2 separate regions of the Homo sapiens genome follow, and region 2 is linked to region 1. Evidence: fine-mapped expression QTL. A gene starts in region 1. The other region holds a variant in brackets. All regions are shown on one strand. Distances are between the middles of the regions. Region 1 holds the start of ZNF460-AS1 (ZNF460 antisense RNA 1). Region 2 holds the start of AURKC (aurora kinase C).

What was found.
Region 2: its variant is fine-mapped to the expression of ZNF460-AS1 in esophagus muscle (GTEx, PIP 0.97).

The regions. Positions count from the first base shown.
Region 1 is chr19:57,276,258-57,284,587 of GRCh38, reverse strand. ZNF460-AS1 (ZNF460 antisense RNA 1) reads left to right here and starts at 4,254. Exons shown (of 3, transcript NR_136529.1): 1 at 4,254-4,309; 2 at 7,532-7,653. ZNF460 (zinc finger protein 460) reads right to left here and starts at 4,103. Exons shown (of 3, transcript NM_006635.4): 1 at 3,752-4,103; 2 at 1-37. The coding sequence starts at 3,781. RefSeq lists enhancers at 2,622-2,741, 3,670-4,261, 3,645-4,844, 4,262-4,853, 3,968-4,907 and a silencer at 3,198-3,247.
Region 2 is chr19:57,229,108-57,237,437 of GRCh38, reverse strand. AURKC (aurora kinase C) reads right to left here and starts at 6,415. Exons shown (of 7, transcript NM_001015878.2): 1 at 6,132-6,415; 2 at 5,651-5,696; 3 at 5,214-5,405; 4 at 4,758-4,896; 5 at 3,830-3,978; 6 at 2,380-2,554; 7 at 1,890-2,191. The coding sequence starts at 6,189. The coding sequence ends at 2,021. The variant G/A (reference allele first, on the strand shown) is at 4,380.

The DNA.
Region 1 (8,330 bases):
TAAATGTCACAGCCACATCCTCGAAGGTCACAGACTCCTGAAAAGTCAAAAAGAACCAGTAATGTTTCCTTTGCAACTGTGGAATAGGATTAGAACCTGTCACTCCAGCACTGCAAAAGATGCACAGAGAATCAAAGGCCAAATCACCAAGCACCTCCAAAGGGCCAAGATCTGTGCTAGGATCAAGGGGAATGTGGACACTGCCTTGCATGGATTACAGCAGTGAAGAGGAGACAGAAGCGGCTGAGGCAGGAGAACTGCTTGAACCTGGGAGGCGGAGATTGCAGTGAGCTGAGATCGTGCCACTGCACTCCAGCCTGGCAACAGAGCAAGACTCTGTCTCAAAAAAAAATAAATAAATAAATAAAAAATAAATAAATAAATAAATAAATAAAGCCTCCTAGGCAGGAAGCCACTTGAACTTAACACAGAAATAAGGTTAGGACAATCCCAAGTGGACTGAGAGGCACAGACAGTAAGTGCTCTGACATATTAGAGGAATGGGAAATAATAATAATAAAAACATCACCACCAGCAACAATAACAGGAACAGTATCTGAGTCTTACCAATCCTCCCTGTGTGCCTGCCTCATGCTGACAGGTTTACATGCCATGGTAAAGTGACTGAAACTCCCCAGCTCAGGAGCCAGACTCCTGAGGTTTAAAACCAAATTCCTGAAATCAACGTGTGCCTGCTATGTGACCTTGGGGACCTCATTTCATTTCGCCGAGCCTCCATTTCCAGGTCAATATAACCGTGTTTCCCACTTCATCAAGAATAGTCAAGGCTGGGCACGGTGGTTCATGCCTGTAATCCCAGCACTCTGGGAGGCTGAGGCACATGAATTACCTGAGGTCAGGAATTCGAGACAAGCCTGGCCAACATGGTGAGACCCCATCTCTACTAAAAATACAAAAATTAGCCAGGTGTGGTGGCACAAGCCTGCAATCCCAGCTACTAGGGAGGCTGAGGCAGGAGAATCGCTTGAACCTGGGAGGCAGAGGTTGCAGTAAGCCAAGACTGTGTCACTGTACTCCAGAACAGAGCGAGCCTCTGTCTCAAAAAAAAAAAAAAAAAAAAAAAAGAATAGTCAAAAGAACTAAAGAAAAACTGTTTGTAGGCTGGGCACGGTGACTCATGCCTGTAATCCCAGCAGTTTCGGAGGCTGAGGTGAGCAGATCATGAGGTCAGGAAATTGAGACCATCCTGGCTAGCAAGGTGAAACCCCATCTCTACTAAAAATACAAAAATTAGCTGGGTGTGGTAGTGTGTGCCTGTAGTCCTAGCTACTCGGGAGGCTGAAGCAGGAGAATCGCTTGAACGTCGGAGGCGATGGTTGCAGTGAGCCGAGATCGCACCACTGAACTCCAGCCTGGCAACAGAGCTAGACTCCATCAAAACAAAGAAAGAAAGAAAAACTGTTTGTAAAAAAAAAAAAAAACAAACAAACACTGAGGCAAAGGCCACAGCATCTGAATTTACCATCATCATCTCTATGTCACACTCAGGGACCTGAGACCTGGGCCTCAGTCCTACCCTCCGCTCTACCAGTCTACCCAAAGTCTCATGTGTTCATGTCTCTCTCTTTTTTTTTTTTTTAGATGGTCTCACTCTGTCACCCAGGCTGGAATGCAGTGGCACAATGTCGGCTCACTGCAACCCTGACCTCCTGTGATCTAGTGATCCTCCCACCTCAGCCTCCTGCACAGCTGGGACTACAGGCACATGATGCCATGCCGGTCTAATTTTTTGTACTTTTTGTAGAGACAGGGTTTTCCCATGTTGCCCAGGCTGGTCTTGAACTCCTGGGCTCAAGCAGTCCACCTACCTCAGCCTCCCAAAGTGCAGGGTTTACAGGTGTGAGCCACCAAGCCCAGCCCAAAGTCACAGGTCTTATCAACAGAGGCAGGATTTAAGCCCAGGGCCCTCTGGTCTGATTATGTAACCTGACATTTCTCTATTAGCAAAGTTAATGCAGTTAATGAGAATGAAGCATTTCAAATCCACATATACATTTCAGCCACTCCCATGGACAAGGGCAGAGAAGTGTAGTCATCATCATCCACCTCACCAAAGAATCACCTGACGTGGTGACACCTGATCAGGTGTTAGGGCCTGGACCTGCTTCCAGGGAGAATTCACAATGAGCCATCGCTTCCTTTTCTACCTAAGTCCTACTAGCAGGCATCCCTGAGGCCAGAAGATTCCATGAGCAAGCAACAAGAGTCATAGAGGGCACAGCAGGTTGTAGCCAAGACAATATGGGCCCATCTGGAGATTACATCTATCCTGGCTGAGTAGGAGGGTACATTCAGCAACATAACCATACAAACGTGCCCTCTCAGAATATGTCAGCAGGTAAGGGAGTAAGGGGAACCACATATAAAACCACCGTGGAAGCCACACAGGTCCCCTGAGAACTCCTTAAACAACCAATATACCATTTTTTAAGTCTACACAGTTCCACCAGTATGAAAGGCCATGACTCCTCATGCCCAAGATCACTGGCTAGAAGGAGGCCTCATCTTGCAAAGGTTACTTTAGGTCTCACCCCCAGGCCTCCCTAACCACTGCGGGTAAAGAAGAGGGTAAAAACACAGGCTATGATGTTAGACACACCAGTTGTTAGTTTCTGACTTAAGAAACTTAAGAGCTACAGTGATGTAAGGCAGGTAATTGGACGTATGTGACCCTCAAATTGCTCTTGTGTAAAACAATGATGACAACAGAACCTAATTCTAAAGAGTAATCCCAGCACTTTGGGAGACCCAGATGGGTGGATCACCTGAGGTCAGGAGTTCAAGACCAGCGTGGCCAACACGGTAAAACCCCGTCTCTACTAAAAATACAAAAATTAGCCAGGCGTGGTGGCGCACACCTGTAGTCCCAGCTACTCAGGAGGCTGAGGCAGGAGAATCGCTTGAACCCAAAAGGCGGAGGTTGCAGTGAGCCGAGGTCACGCCACTGCACTCCAGCCTGGGCGACAGAACAAGACTCCGTCTCAAAAAAAAAAAAAAAAAAAAAAAAAAATTTCAGGGTTAAACGAACTGAGGGTTAAATAATACTCACCGATCAGCCCACAGCAAGGACTCAATGACAGTTAATATCATTCTTTGCAATTATTTTTCTTTGTTCCCATTACATCCTTGACAAACTCAAATCCACAAGCTTCTTTAATACCATCAGATTATCTACACAAAAATACCAGACTCTGGGCAAGGGTGTAAGGTGCCACTTTAGCCGGAATTGCCAAAAAAGGCACCTCCAAATAGGTGACACCTGGACAGATGCCAAAAGGATGTGAAAGGGAGGCCCTGCAAAGTTACAGGGGCAGTGTTCGAAGTAAAAGGAAGTGCAAGGAGAAAGCCTGGAAAATGGAAGAGGACTGCACGGTCAGGTTGGTGGCTCTGAAGAGCAAAGGACCAGGGAAAAATGCAAACAGACAAGGTCAGGGGTGGTTGGCCAGGTGGATGGGGTACGGGCTGGCAGGCAACAGAGAAGGTTGGATTTAGGGGAAGTGTGATGAGATCCCTAGAAGGAAGCATCACTCCTTCAACCACGGACTGAACACCTATCAGAGGCCAACACTGTTGCAGGACTGCGGATAAAGGAAATGACAAGCCACGGCCATTTCTCTTAAATAAACGATGGCGACAAAGAAAAATCCTGTGGCTGTCTTGGCTTCCAGCCTGCCCACGAGGCCTCTAGAAATAGCACAGCAGCAGCAAGGCCGAAACCTCGTCCACTCACCTGCGCCGGAGCCATCCACGCCGCCGCCATCCCGGGAATGCCGCGGATCAGCCGACCACAGCCCTTCTCTGTCCTGGGCGGGGCGACCTCGGCTGACTTTCGCACTCCGAGCCTCAGTTTTCCCCCGAAAAAAATGCGCACAAGGCCCAAGGCGCAGCGTCGGGGCTGAGGAGACGGAGGGCGGCTGCGGAGGCCTAGGCCTCGGCGGGCGCCGGTGGGACACCTCGTTAGGGGAGAAGCGGGGCGTCAGGCTCCCGCCAAGACGCGAAGAAGGGGCGTAACCGCTTCACTACCCGTCCCTGCTCAGGCCGCAGAACGCGCCCACCCAGCGCTCTAGGCCCCACACTGTTTCAGGGCCAAACCGGCCCACGGAGATGACGTCACACGAAGAAGCGGAAGTCCCGCCTCCGCCGCCCTGGCCCGCAGAAAACTCTCCTGTCCTGGGTCGTCAATGGCCCAGAGTCCGCGGCCGACGCAAGGGGCAGTGCCTTCTGGGTAATGCAGTTTTTCCCTTACATCTACCGGGTGTGGGAACTCACCCAGCGCATCCGACTGCACGTAAGTGCGCACCAGAACCCCCGCGTCGTCTTAGGGCCACCGCCTTAGTATAGGCACAAGTCGGAGGGTCGAAAGGTCCCTTCTAGCTCAGGAAAATCGAGGTCAGGAGGCGGGGATATTCGCCCCGATTCAGACCCCGAACAAAGGTGCTTACCCTGCTGTGGGCTGGGCCCGCGACTTCTCGCTTGCTTTGCCTCTTTTCTGGATCTTTTCATAGAAGAAAAGGATAAATGAGCAGTTAAAATAGCCACCCAAAGGAGGACGCCTGACAGTGTGCCCAGCCTGCTGGGAAAGGACAGACCGCCCTCTATTGGGCCTCCTTTGGCCGGGCCCAGCCTTCGTAGGATGCAGGGACTTCCGGGTGATGTAATAGGCTTCGCGTTCGCCACGTGTGGACTTCCCGTACCCTGAGGTGGGGAGGCTGCTAGTGGAGCAGGCTTGCCGGGAAGCCCAGTACTCCCATTTCAAGCATGATCAGTTTGAAACGTCAGTAAGACCACAAAGCGTAGTGCCATATACTCAACCTATGATTCAACATTGGCAGAGGGTTCGAGCGTGGATATATAAATTTGGGAGTTATTACTGTAAACTGTTACTTCAAGTCATGATATTGGGTGAGGCTATGAAAAGAATGAGCGTAGATGGATAAGTGACGGGAAAGAGGGGAACCCTGGCCCAACCCAGCATTAACTGGTTGCAGACAGGAGAGTTTATAAAGTCTTGTTAGGAATTTTAACAATCCTAGACTATGCAAAGATTATATTATGCGAAGTCTTAGGAGTCCCCATCAGTAACTTTTTTTTTTTCTTTTCATGACTATGAAAGTGAGAGAATAAAGTCCAGCTTTCAATGGTTTGACGATATATATGGTTAAGGAAATAGAAAGGTGTGCAGAAAGTACTCTCCAAGAGATTTAATTTTGAGATTGAAAATAGTCAAGGAATGGAGATGGAGTCAATTTCCTACACGATGCGGTACTTTTGGAGAAATATTTTTGGCTAAATTAGTGTGCAAGGAACACTGTTATTCATCACTGGCAATAGTAATTTTTGAAAATTGATAAAGACATCATTCTCTTTTTCACATATTTGTGACTCTTAAATTTTTTTTTTTTTTTTTTTTTTTTGAGATGGAGTTTCACTCTTGTTGCCCAGGCTGGAGAGCAGTGGCACAGTCTCCACTCACTGCAACCTCCGCCTCCCGGGTTCAAGCGATTCTCCTGCCTCAGCCTCCTGAGTAGCTGGGATTACAGGTGTGCGCCACCACGCCTGGCTAATTTTATATTTTTAGTAGAGACAGGGTTCTTCCATGTTGTTCAGGCTGGTCTCAAACTCCCGACCTCAGGTGATCCACCCACCTCGGCCTCCCAAAGTGCTAGGATTACAGACGTGAGCCACCCCCTCTGGCCAGACTCTTATAATTAAATTTAAATGGTTTTTTCAGAGGCATATGAACCAGAGCAACTCTATCTTAAATAGGAGCTGGGTAAAATGAAGCTAAAACCTACTAGGCTGCATTCCCAGACAGTTAAGGCATTCTGAGTCACAGGATGAGATAGGAGGTCAGCACAAAATACGGATCATAAAGACCTTGCTGATAAAACAGGTTGCAGTAAAGGAGCTGGCCAAAACCACCAAAACCAAAATGGTGACAAGAGTGACCTCTGGTCTTCCTCACTGCTACACTCCCATCAGTGCCACGACAGTTTACAAATGCCATGGCAATGTCAGGGAGTTACCCTATGTGGTCTGAAAAGGGGAGGCATGAACAATCCACCCCTTGTTTAGCAAGTCACTAAGAAATAACCATAAACATGGGCACCCAGCAACCCTTGGGGCTGCTCTGTCTATGGAGTAGCCATTCTTTATTCCTTTACTTTCTTAATAAACTTGCTTTCACTTGCACTGTGGACTCGCCCTGAATTATTTCTTGTGCGAGATCCAAGAACCCTCTCTTGGGATATGGATTGGGACCCCTTTCCTGTAACACATTCCTGGCCACTACAGAAGAGACTATACTGCAGGAACCCGTGACCCAAAGGCTAACTTTGGGTAAGTGGTGGGGTCGGGTAACACTTTTCTCGCAAACCACAAAAGGGACAATGCTGAGGAGACCCCCCTGACTCAAAGGAAATAGACTGCAGCACTGATTGGATGACTTTGGGTAAGTGGTGGGGTACCCAGGTAAAGAATGGGATTGGGATAGACGCTCAAGTTAGGGGAGTTAGAGTCTCTCCTAAGGCAGAGTGGATTAGAGGCCCCTCTTAATAAAAGGCAAGGACGCTTGACTGACCTTGGGTTAGAGGCCCAACTTAGGAGGATTAGAGTCCCTTCTAAGATTTAGGGGGTTAGAGACCCCTCTCAGTAAAGTCCCTCTTGGCTAAGAAGAGGTTTGGCACCGTGGGATGTTAACTGCTATTGTCTTTGGATTAATCTGCCTTGCACTCTTTGCTGATGGCTCCGGGCGACAGGGTTAGGCGTGTACAGGATCGTGGGACATGGGGAGCTTTTTCCTCCCCCAAAAGGGGAAACTTGAGAGCTGACGGGACTGCTGGAAAAAAATCCCTTCACGACAGCAGCCGTAGCCGCCTGAACTTTTCAGTGTCACTGCAATGGGTGGGTCTTTCTCTGGCCTCCCTGATCATTTTGCCTTCCCTGGGAAAGTATTGCTTGTGGAAAATATTTCCTGGGAAAGTATTGCCTGCGAAAGCATTTCCATATATAATTTTTTTTTTTTTTTTGAGACGGAGTCTCGCTCTGTCGCCCAGGCTGGAGTGCAGTGGCGCTATCTCTGCTCACTGCAAGCTCCACCTCCCGGGTTCAGGCCATTCTCCTGCCTCAGCCTCCCGAGTAGCTGGGACTACAGGCGCTTGCAACCATGCCCGGCTAATTTTTTGTATTTTTAGTAGAGACGGGGTTTCACCATCTTAGCCAGGATGGTCTCGATCTCCTGACCTTGTGATCTGCCCGCCTCGGCCTCCTGAAGTGCTGGGATTACAGGCGTGAGCCACTGCGCCCGGCCCCTTTCTTATCTTTTCTATTACTCTATTACTCAGGGCGACCATCTTGCCCAGAGACCACATGTTGAAACTCCAAGTCAGAGGTTGGATTAAAGATGACAGGGCCTATCTGGGGGCAAATTTAAGCCTTGCCAGTTTAATATTGGGTGCTAAGCAGAGTGGCTAATGTGTATGTTTCATCACATGTGTTTTGCTCTGGTCAGAATGAAAAAAAGTAGTTTTCCTTTACAATGAGGCTTGGCCCCCAGGGCGATGGTGCCACAAGCCAGATCACTGGGACCACTCAGAGAAAGGGAACACAGAAGCCTGGCATGCCAGCAAAAAGGTAAGAATTTGTTACCAGTCAGATTTCTGACTTCTCCCTCTCTGTGCAAACGGTTGAATGAATGGTAAAAATAATAACAATAATAAAAATAATAAATCAGTGTGTATCTCCTCTGTAAAGTTTTGATTAATATGAAAAAGAATTCTAAGCTAGTCAAACTGGTGTATTTTGTGCTGTGAATTTGTTTTTCTGTAGGATGAAACATGGGCTTAGAACACCTGTGAGCCCACTTTTCAACATGACCCAGCAAACTGGTCAGTAACAAACAGCTGCAGGTCCCTGAAACAAACAAACAGGATGAAGTCTCCCCTTGTTTTATGTCCTTGGGAGCCTGACCTTTTAACCATGTGGCAGTACCTTCTCTTGGTCTCCACCTACTAGGGAAAAGGAATTTTAGGGTTCATGTCATAGTCAGCTCTAAAAATCATATAAAATAGTTAAAAGCCTTTGCAAGCTCAAAATTAACTACTCTAGGCTTCTGTGAAAGGAAGTAGGCACCGTCCCACACTGTAGCTCAGTAACTAAGGTTTCTGCACTTTCACAGTGGCAGTTTGGGTTTGATACCCCACCTAGGAAGTAAGTCATTTCTGGTTTAATATCTGCGTGACCTTGTCTAGTCTCTTCTCCTCCGCAGACTGTCTTAAATTTTCCTTTCTCTATGCACGTAGGAGATAACC
Region 2 (8,330 bases), 47 kb after region 1:
ATATTTATATTCCATCATGGAATGTCTGGAATCAGTGCTGCTGAAGAAAGCTATGTAGATATTGGTGACAATTTTTTTTTTTTGAGACAGAGTCTCACTTTGTTGCCCAGGCTGGAGTACAGTGGCGCAATGTCGGCTCCCTGCAACCTCCACCTCCCAGGTTCAAGTGATTCTCGTGCCTCAGCCTCGCAAGTAGCTGGGATTACAGCCACCATGGCCAGCTAATTTTTGTATTTTTCAGTCAAGACAGGTTTTTACCATGTTGGTCAGGCTGGTCTCGAACTCCTGACCTCACATGTTTATCTGCCTGCCTCAGCCTCCCAAATTGCTGGGATTACAGGTGTGAGCCACTACGCCCGGCCTGGGGACACTTTCAAATCCCTCATGTAAAGCATGACAGAGTTTTCATTATTTAAACATATATCATCTGGTGATCAGTGCTGAGGCCCTAGTGATTTTTCTATCCTTACCTGCCAAAAATGTGCCCAGTGATGTGTTTATCCAGCACCTAAAATGTGTAAGAGTTTATATGTGTGAACCAGTTAATTTATTAGGAATTGCCAAGTGTTTAAAATGTTAATTCAGGAAAACTGATAGGATGAAGCAAAGCATATAGAGGTAAGCACTGTGTCTCCCCATGCAGGTAAAAGAAAGAAAAAACAAAAAAGAGGTAAATACTGAAAGTGCAGGTTAAAAACCATGAACCAATGTCTTGGAGTATTTAACTTATAGATCTGCAATAGTGGGAGCTTTTCATCCAAGTGAAGTGGCTGAGTTATTTATGCTTACGTAGTGGGTCTGGTCATAGCAGAAATCATGCCTGCAACTGCTGGATATTTCACAATGAGGAGACTTTGTAGAATATAATGATAGGAGTAACATTAACAAGGCAAACTCCATATAAAGTGCTTAACAACTAAAGTTAGGAGAAATACTGGTGTAACTGACTGCATTGATCAAAAAACATTTGAGCTTACAGCTGAGGAGTCTAGATGCTTACTGTGGTAGTCAGTTTATAATGGGTGCAGGGAGCAGCTGCCACATGAAGCTGTCACAGAAGGTTACAGAAGGCTGGAAGGCCACTCCCCAAATTGCAGCATGCAGTAATTTCAGAAGAGGTGATATTACATTTATTATGAGGAATGACTTATTCTAATGTCATCAGAGTGCAACACAACACAGAGGTGCTAGTGTATTCACTTAAGAAGTGGGTTGCACTGACGTGCAGTGAAACATTTTATTTCTGAGACAGCAGCATATTGATGTCCATAAAAAGAGAGTGGACCTTTGGGTTGATGACAGTCCTGTTTTACAAATGGCATACTCCTGAAAACATGGAGAATAGTAAGTTGGATCAAGGAGCCACTGTGATAGGTGGCAGGTTTATGTACCCTCAGGGAATTTATCTGCAGAAAGTAGACAAGAGTTTTCTTTCTTTTCTTTTGAGACGGTGTCTCACTCTGTCTCCCATGCTGGACTCCAATGGCACGATCTCAGCTCACTGTAGCCTCTGCCTCCCAGGTTCAAGCAATTCTCATGTCTCAGCCTCACAAGTAGGTGGGATTATAGGTGCCCGCCACAACGCCCAGCTAATTTTTGTATTTTTAGAAGAGACAGGGTTTTACCATGTTGGCCAGGCTGGCCTTGAACTCCTGAACTCAAGTGTTGCGCCTGCCTTGGCCTTCCAAAGTGCTGGAATTACAGGCGTGAGCCACCGTGCCTGACCTGAAAGTAGGCAAGAGTTTTCAGAAGAATGAAGTCACCATCTCCCGAGGTGGAAGGTGGGGGTAGCAGGGAGAACAACCTTGGGCAGCTCTCATGGGAAAGAGTTCCCACAAGAAATAAAGATTCTACCCAGTCACATAATAACTCACACAACTATGAAGAGCTGGTATGAAATGATTCAGCTTTTATTAATTAGCATCTTACATCTTAAAAGAGAAAAAAATAAAGACAAATGAGGTGGCAGAGCCAGGAGAGCTCCCTGAACACACACAAAGGGAACAGAGGCAGACAGGGCTCAGGAAGCCATCTGAGCACAGGGAGGCAGCACCCTTCGGGAGTGGGCCTGAACCCAGGGGTGCTTCAGGATCTGGGCCAGGGGCAGTCTCTCCAAGGGCTGGTATCTGAGAAGCCTGGAAATCAAGTCCCGGGCCCCCAGAGGCATTGATAGTGGAAACCTCACATCTACCTGATGAGGCCAGGAAAGAAGAAAGAGAAGTCTGGTTAATTTCTTTGATCAATGTCCTCCCTCTTCTTTGAGCCTTGTTAAGGCGCTGTTCTGGACCACAGAAGACAACCCTGTGTGTGTGTGTGCCCACAGCCCAGCAGCCATCACTGACCAGCTCCCCCATGAATGCCCAAAGGTGACTGTCCCACCTTGAGGATGCGTCTGTAAGTCTCACTGTGGGAGGCGCTCTCAAAGGGTGGATATCCCACCAGCAGCTCATAGCAGAGCACTCCAATGCACCACAAATCCACCTTTTCATCATATGTTCTCCCCTCAATCATTTCTGGCGGCAAGTAGTCCAGTGTCCCACACATTGTCTTCCTCCTAGAGGAAGGCAGAAAAGGGAATAAGTACTAAGCAGAGGCCCAGGATGAGGGAAATTCTCCTTCCCCAGCTTTCATTGAGATGTGGAGACCCTAGGACACCCTGGAAAGTCCCTCCCAAGCACAGGAGTTTGGAGAGACAAATTTTTAATATGGATCAAGGTTCAGAAAAGTACTGGGGCCTACTATTAATAAATCCATATTTTGGAATTATTCACACAGTGATTTAGCTCATGCTCCAGAATGTTTTCACAAGAATATTCTCAGCATTAAGAAAGATCTAGAACAAACTGATGGTGTATCAATGAGAGCCAAGTAAATAAATTATGGTAAGAAAATTTCTGTATGAAAATCATTCATACAGAAAAATGCACTCCTTTGGAATTGTGGAGCAATGACTTTATTTACATGCAAACTTACTGGTATAGTTATATATTAACAAAGATCAGAAAATAAAAGGTTTGATTGGACCACATTATTTAAATCTACGAATACATATCAAGTATAGGTGTTTGAAAATGGCAGCATTGGCCAGGCATCGTGGCTCATGCCTATGATCCCAGCACTTTGGGAGGCCGAGGCAGGCAGATTACCTGAGGTCAGGAGTTGGAGACCAGCCTGACCAACATGGTGAAACCCGTCTTTACTAAAAATACAAAATCAGCCGGGTGTGATGGCCCATGCCTGTAATCCCAGCTACTTGGGAGGCTGAGGCAGGAGAATCGCTTGAACCTGGGAGGGGGAGGTTGCAGTGAGCCGAGATCACACTATTGCAATCTAGCCTGGGCAACAAGAGCAAAACTCTGTCTCAAAAAAAAAAAAAAAAAAAAAGAAAAGAAAAAGGCAGTAGTTCAGCCAGGCATGGTGGCTGACGCCTGTAATCCCAGCACTTTGGGAAGCCAAGGTGGGCGGATCACCTGAGGTCAGGAGTTCGAGACTAGCCTGGCCAACATAGCAAAACCCTGTCTCTACTAAAAATACAAAAATTAGCCGAGTGTGGTGGCACATGCCTGTTATCCCAGCTACTTGGGAGACTGAGGCAGTAGAACCGCTTTAACCTGGGAGGCCGAGATTGTGCCCCTGCACTCCAGCCTGGGTGAAAGAGTTAGACTCTGTCTCAAAAAAAAAAAGAAAAGAAAAGAAAAGAAAAAGGCAGTATTCCAATAGAAACCCCAAGTTCGTATCTAGGTTTTACACATGGACACATGAAATACATTAAACTGGGTCATTCCTAACTGGTACTCAGAACTCACCCTACCACCACCACCTGACCTACCTCAGGGAGGGGGTGTGCACAGACCAGCCAAAATCTGCAATCTTCACCTCACCCCTGAACCCCAGCAGCAGGTTCTCTGGCTTAATATCTCTGTGAATCACTTTCTTGTCATGGCAGTAGGTCAGGGCATCTGCCAACTCCTCTATTATCTGTGGGTGCAAAGAAAAGTCACCCTGGAAGTGAAGCCTGCCACAATTTCCGTCTGAGGTGGAACACTTACCATGAATTGTATGATTACAGTGGAATCTTTTTGGTCCAGTAACTCCATTTCCTCCTTTTAAATTGCACCAGTTACTGGTGTGTGGGGTGTGGTTTTCCTCTCCTTTTTATGTGGTCTTATAGGATGGATGGTAACATGGACACAGATCCTCCCTGTTGTCCTAGCACAGCAAGTAGCCAGACATAGAACCTACATTGAGCCACTCAGATGATCTCTCACAGGACTTGAGGCCCGAGGAAGTGAAACAGAAACAGGAGGAAAGATGGAAGACCACTCATCCTGACACAGCAAGCTGATTGGACCATTGCTCCTGGGAAAATCATTGCCATG[G/A]TTCCCTTTCCGGAACCCTCTAGAAATCTCTTTGTACCTATCTCTAAGCCAGTTCTAGCTATTTATTCAGTGAACTCCTTCAGAGCCTTTCAATATGTTTCTTTACATAAGGCAGTGGAGTTAGATTCTGTTGCTTATAACCAAAGAATCCAAACCTATACGCAGTACTTATTAATATTCTGGAGATACAATGAGGTTAATTAGGGTATCCAAGGATAAAGCTGTAGAACATACGTGCCATTATATTAAATTTACACAATAACATTCAGAAGTAAACTTCTCAGAAGGCAATGCGGACCCTCCTGACAGCCACAAACAGAGCTCCCACCAGCCCACAGTAAACTCAGAGACCCCAGAGCCTCCAGACCCGCACCTCACCGTGGCTGTGCGCTGTTCATCTAATTTCTCGCTTTTCTGCAGCTCCTTGTAGAGCTCACCCCTTGGAGCATATTCCAGAATCAGGTACACCCGGCGTGCATCATGGAAATAGTTATACAGGCGCAGGATATTGGGGTGTCTGAAGGATTAATGTTGGAAGAGTCAGATTTCTCCCTGAGGCCTATCATATGATGCCACCGTCACTGCCTGGTCACACAAGTGGCAAATTATGCTGGGACCAGAATAACAACAGCCCTATCTGGGAGCAAGTGAGGGGAGAACGGAGAACAGGAACCAGGATTCGAGTGTCTGACCCAGGGTAGGAGGTAGTGTAAATGGAATGAACTGCAGAGAAGTCTTCAAGGTACAAGTGCAGGGTTTACTTGGGGTTAGTATTTGGGGAAAATGCTGGGCTCAGACGTCAAAGATGAAAGAGGAAGCAGAGACTGTCCTTACTGTAGATGAGCCTGGATCTCAATTTCCCGGCGCAGCTGGTGCTCCAGTCCTTCCTTCTCTATCTGCGACTTGAAGAGAACCTTCAGGGCCACAATGAAATGGCTTTCCTTGAGCCGAGCCAGGTACACATTCCCAAATTTCCCCTTGCCCAGGGGACGCCCGATTTCAAAGTCATCGACTGTGAGGCGCCGCCTGACAGGAGAGGAAGAAAAAAGCCTCAGCTTGGGAGGTAGGGTAGGCGGAGGGAAAGTCAGGGATGCCAATGCTCCCCTTCCTCTTTCATTGTATCCTTCCTCTGCCGCTTTCCCTTCTCACACAGACCCAGCCCTATCAGTAGTTCTCGTTCCCAGGAGCCAGCACCCCACACACCCAGTCTGTTCTTCATCCCCACGTCCCACCTTCCTTCCTTTTCCAGATACCAATCCCAAGGGACTCACATGGCTGGGCTGCTGGGCTGCTGGGCTGTTTGGTTTGCTGTAGCCACTGAAAGAGAGGAGGAGGAGGGAGATAGGAAGGGAGAGGGGAGGGAAGGAGAAGGGGAGAGAAAGAGAGGAGAGGAGAACAGTAGAGAAGGGAATAGGGAGCGAGAGGTGAGGGGAAGAAGGGGAGGAGAGAAAGAGAGGGAAGGGGAAGGCAGGGAGAGGGGGAGGGAGAGGTAAGGGGAAGAAGAAAGAGTAAGGTAAGGTAGGGAGGGGAGGAGGAGGTGAAGAAGAGGCAGAGAGAAAGGAAGGGGAGGAGAGAGTAGGGGAGGGAGAGGTGAAAGAAAGAATTGGAGGGAAGGGAGGGAGTGGGGAGAAAAGAAGAGCGTTGGGGAGGAGGAGAGGGAGGGGAGATGTCAACACATGTGTCTTCTGTGCACCCGACCCCTGGCCCAGTCCCCAGCCTTCCCTGCGTCCTTTCTCTGGCGCTGGCTCTCACACTCTTCGCCTGCAGGTTGAGCTTTGCCCAGCTGCACCACAGCTCTGGGGGAGCTCATGGGGAGAAGAGGTGAGGGCGCGGACGCCTTCCTGAACCCTCTGGATGGCTGTTCCCGTTCACAGGGTCCTGAAAGGGGTGGGGGGTCACTTTCTGGCCGGGGCGCTTCCAATCCTGCTCGTCCTGCAGCCTCACTGATGTCTCACTGCTACACAGGCTTCGGGATCCGCGGCGTCGTGAGCAGCCGTGGCTGCGCGGCCTTCTTTTATACCCGGCACCAACCGCTCAGAGAGGTACTTCCTGGCTGGCTCCTATTGGCTGAAATTCCTGACGCCATCGGAAGTGCGCCCAATAGAAAGGACAGAAACGGGAGCCTCAGTCCAGGGTTCCCGGGTTGGGGCGGAACTGGAGTGCTGCGGTCCGGGCTGGGCACTGAAAGCGAGGGCCAGGGGTGAGGCCCGAGAAGGAAGGAGACAGAGGGTGCGGAGAGGTGGTGATGGCCGTTGTGGGAATGAACAACGCATACACCCACGGGGTGTGCATGCGTCAACTAGGAGAGAGCCGCGATGCACGTGGGAATGAACAGACGCCCACTCCTGACGTGCTGGAGCCTCGTGCAGCCCGTGACCCTAAACCACTTCGCGCCTTGTGCAGCCGGCGACCCCAAAACCACCTTGCTTCAAGGTCACGTCCGATTCAGGCCACTCTCCAGGGTCACCGCGATGGGGCTCCCTGAAGCCTGCGGCTGTGCCTGCTCACAGCCAGGACGCCACCAGTCCAGCTCACTTACCCCTCTCCTCCCACTCGCCAAATATTTGTTGGACCCTGTAATCAGTTTGTGGATTTGGCCTCAGATCGTAAAATCAGCCCCCACGTATTTGTTTAGCAAACACATAAGTTTCAAAAACATTAAAAATTGAATTCTTTTAGACAGGGAACATATCTTGCAGAAATATAATTGAAGGCCTGGCGTGATGGCTCATGCCTGTAATCCCAGCACTTTGGGAGGCCGAGGCGGGCGGATCACCTGAGGTAGGCAGTTCGAGACCAGCCTGGCCAACAGGGCGAAACCCCGTTTCTACTACAAAAATTAGCCGGGTGTGGTGGCGCATGCCTGTAATCCCACCTACTCAAAAGGCTGAGGCAAGAGAATCGCTTGAACCCTGGAGGCGGAGGTTGCAGTGAGCCAAGATCATGCCACTGCACTCCAGCCTGGGCGACAGAAGGAGAACGAGACTCTGTCTCAAAAAAAACAAAAACAAAAACAAAAAAACCCAAAAACAAAAAAGCTCGTCTCAAAATATTTGGGGAGACCTATTTGAGTAATAAAACTCTGGTCTCTCATTTAGCTCGATTGATGTGAATTAAACCCTTTATTGCAATTATCCTGTCTTGATAAGTCGACTCTATCTGGGGAGCAGGGAAAATAATGAACCCATTAGGTGGTTACAATAGGTGGATCAGGGTAATGGCGCTTAGCTCAGGCCAACCATTCCTTTCTCAGAGGCTTTCCCAAACCTGTCTGTTTGTTTGTTTATTGAGACGGAGTCTTGCTCTGTCACCCAGGCTGGAGTGCAGTGGCTCGAACTCAGCTCATGCAACCTCCGCCTCCTAGGTTCAAACATTTCTCCTGCCTCAGCCTCCTGAGTAGCTGGGATTACAGGCACCTGCCACCATGCCCGGCTAATTTTTGTATTTTTAGTAGAGACAGGGTTTCACCATGTTGGCCAGGCTGGTCTCGAACTCCTGACCTCAGGTGATCCACTCGCCTCGGCTTCCCAAAATACTGGGATCACAGGTGTGAGCCACTGCGCCCAGCTCCAAACTGTCAATTTAAAACAGCCCCCACTACAACGTCATCCTGTTCTGTTTTTCCTTAGGTCACTCATAACCATGTGAAAGTGCTGTTTTATATATGTGTATATTGTTAATTTAATGAGTATCGATTGAGTGCCTATCTTGCAACAGGCACTGCTCTAAAAAATCAGATATGTACATAGCAAAATAATTATGCATTCCTGTACTTGAGGAATTTTTTTTTTTTTTTGAGATGCAGTTTCACTCTGTCGCCCAGGCTGGAGTGCAGTGGTGCGATCTCGGCTCACTGCAACCTCTGCCTCCCAGGTTCAACCAATTCTCCTGCCTCAGACTCCCAAGTAGCTGGGACTACAGGTGCACACCACCACGCCCGGCTAATTTTGG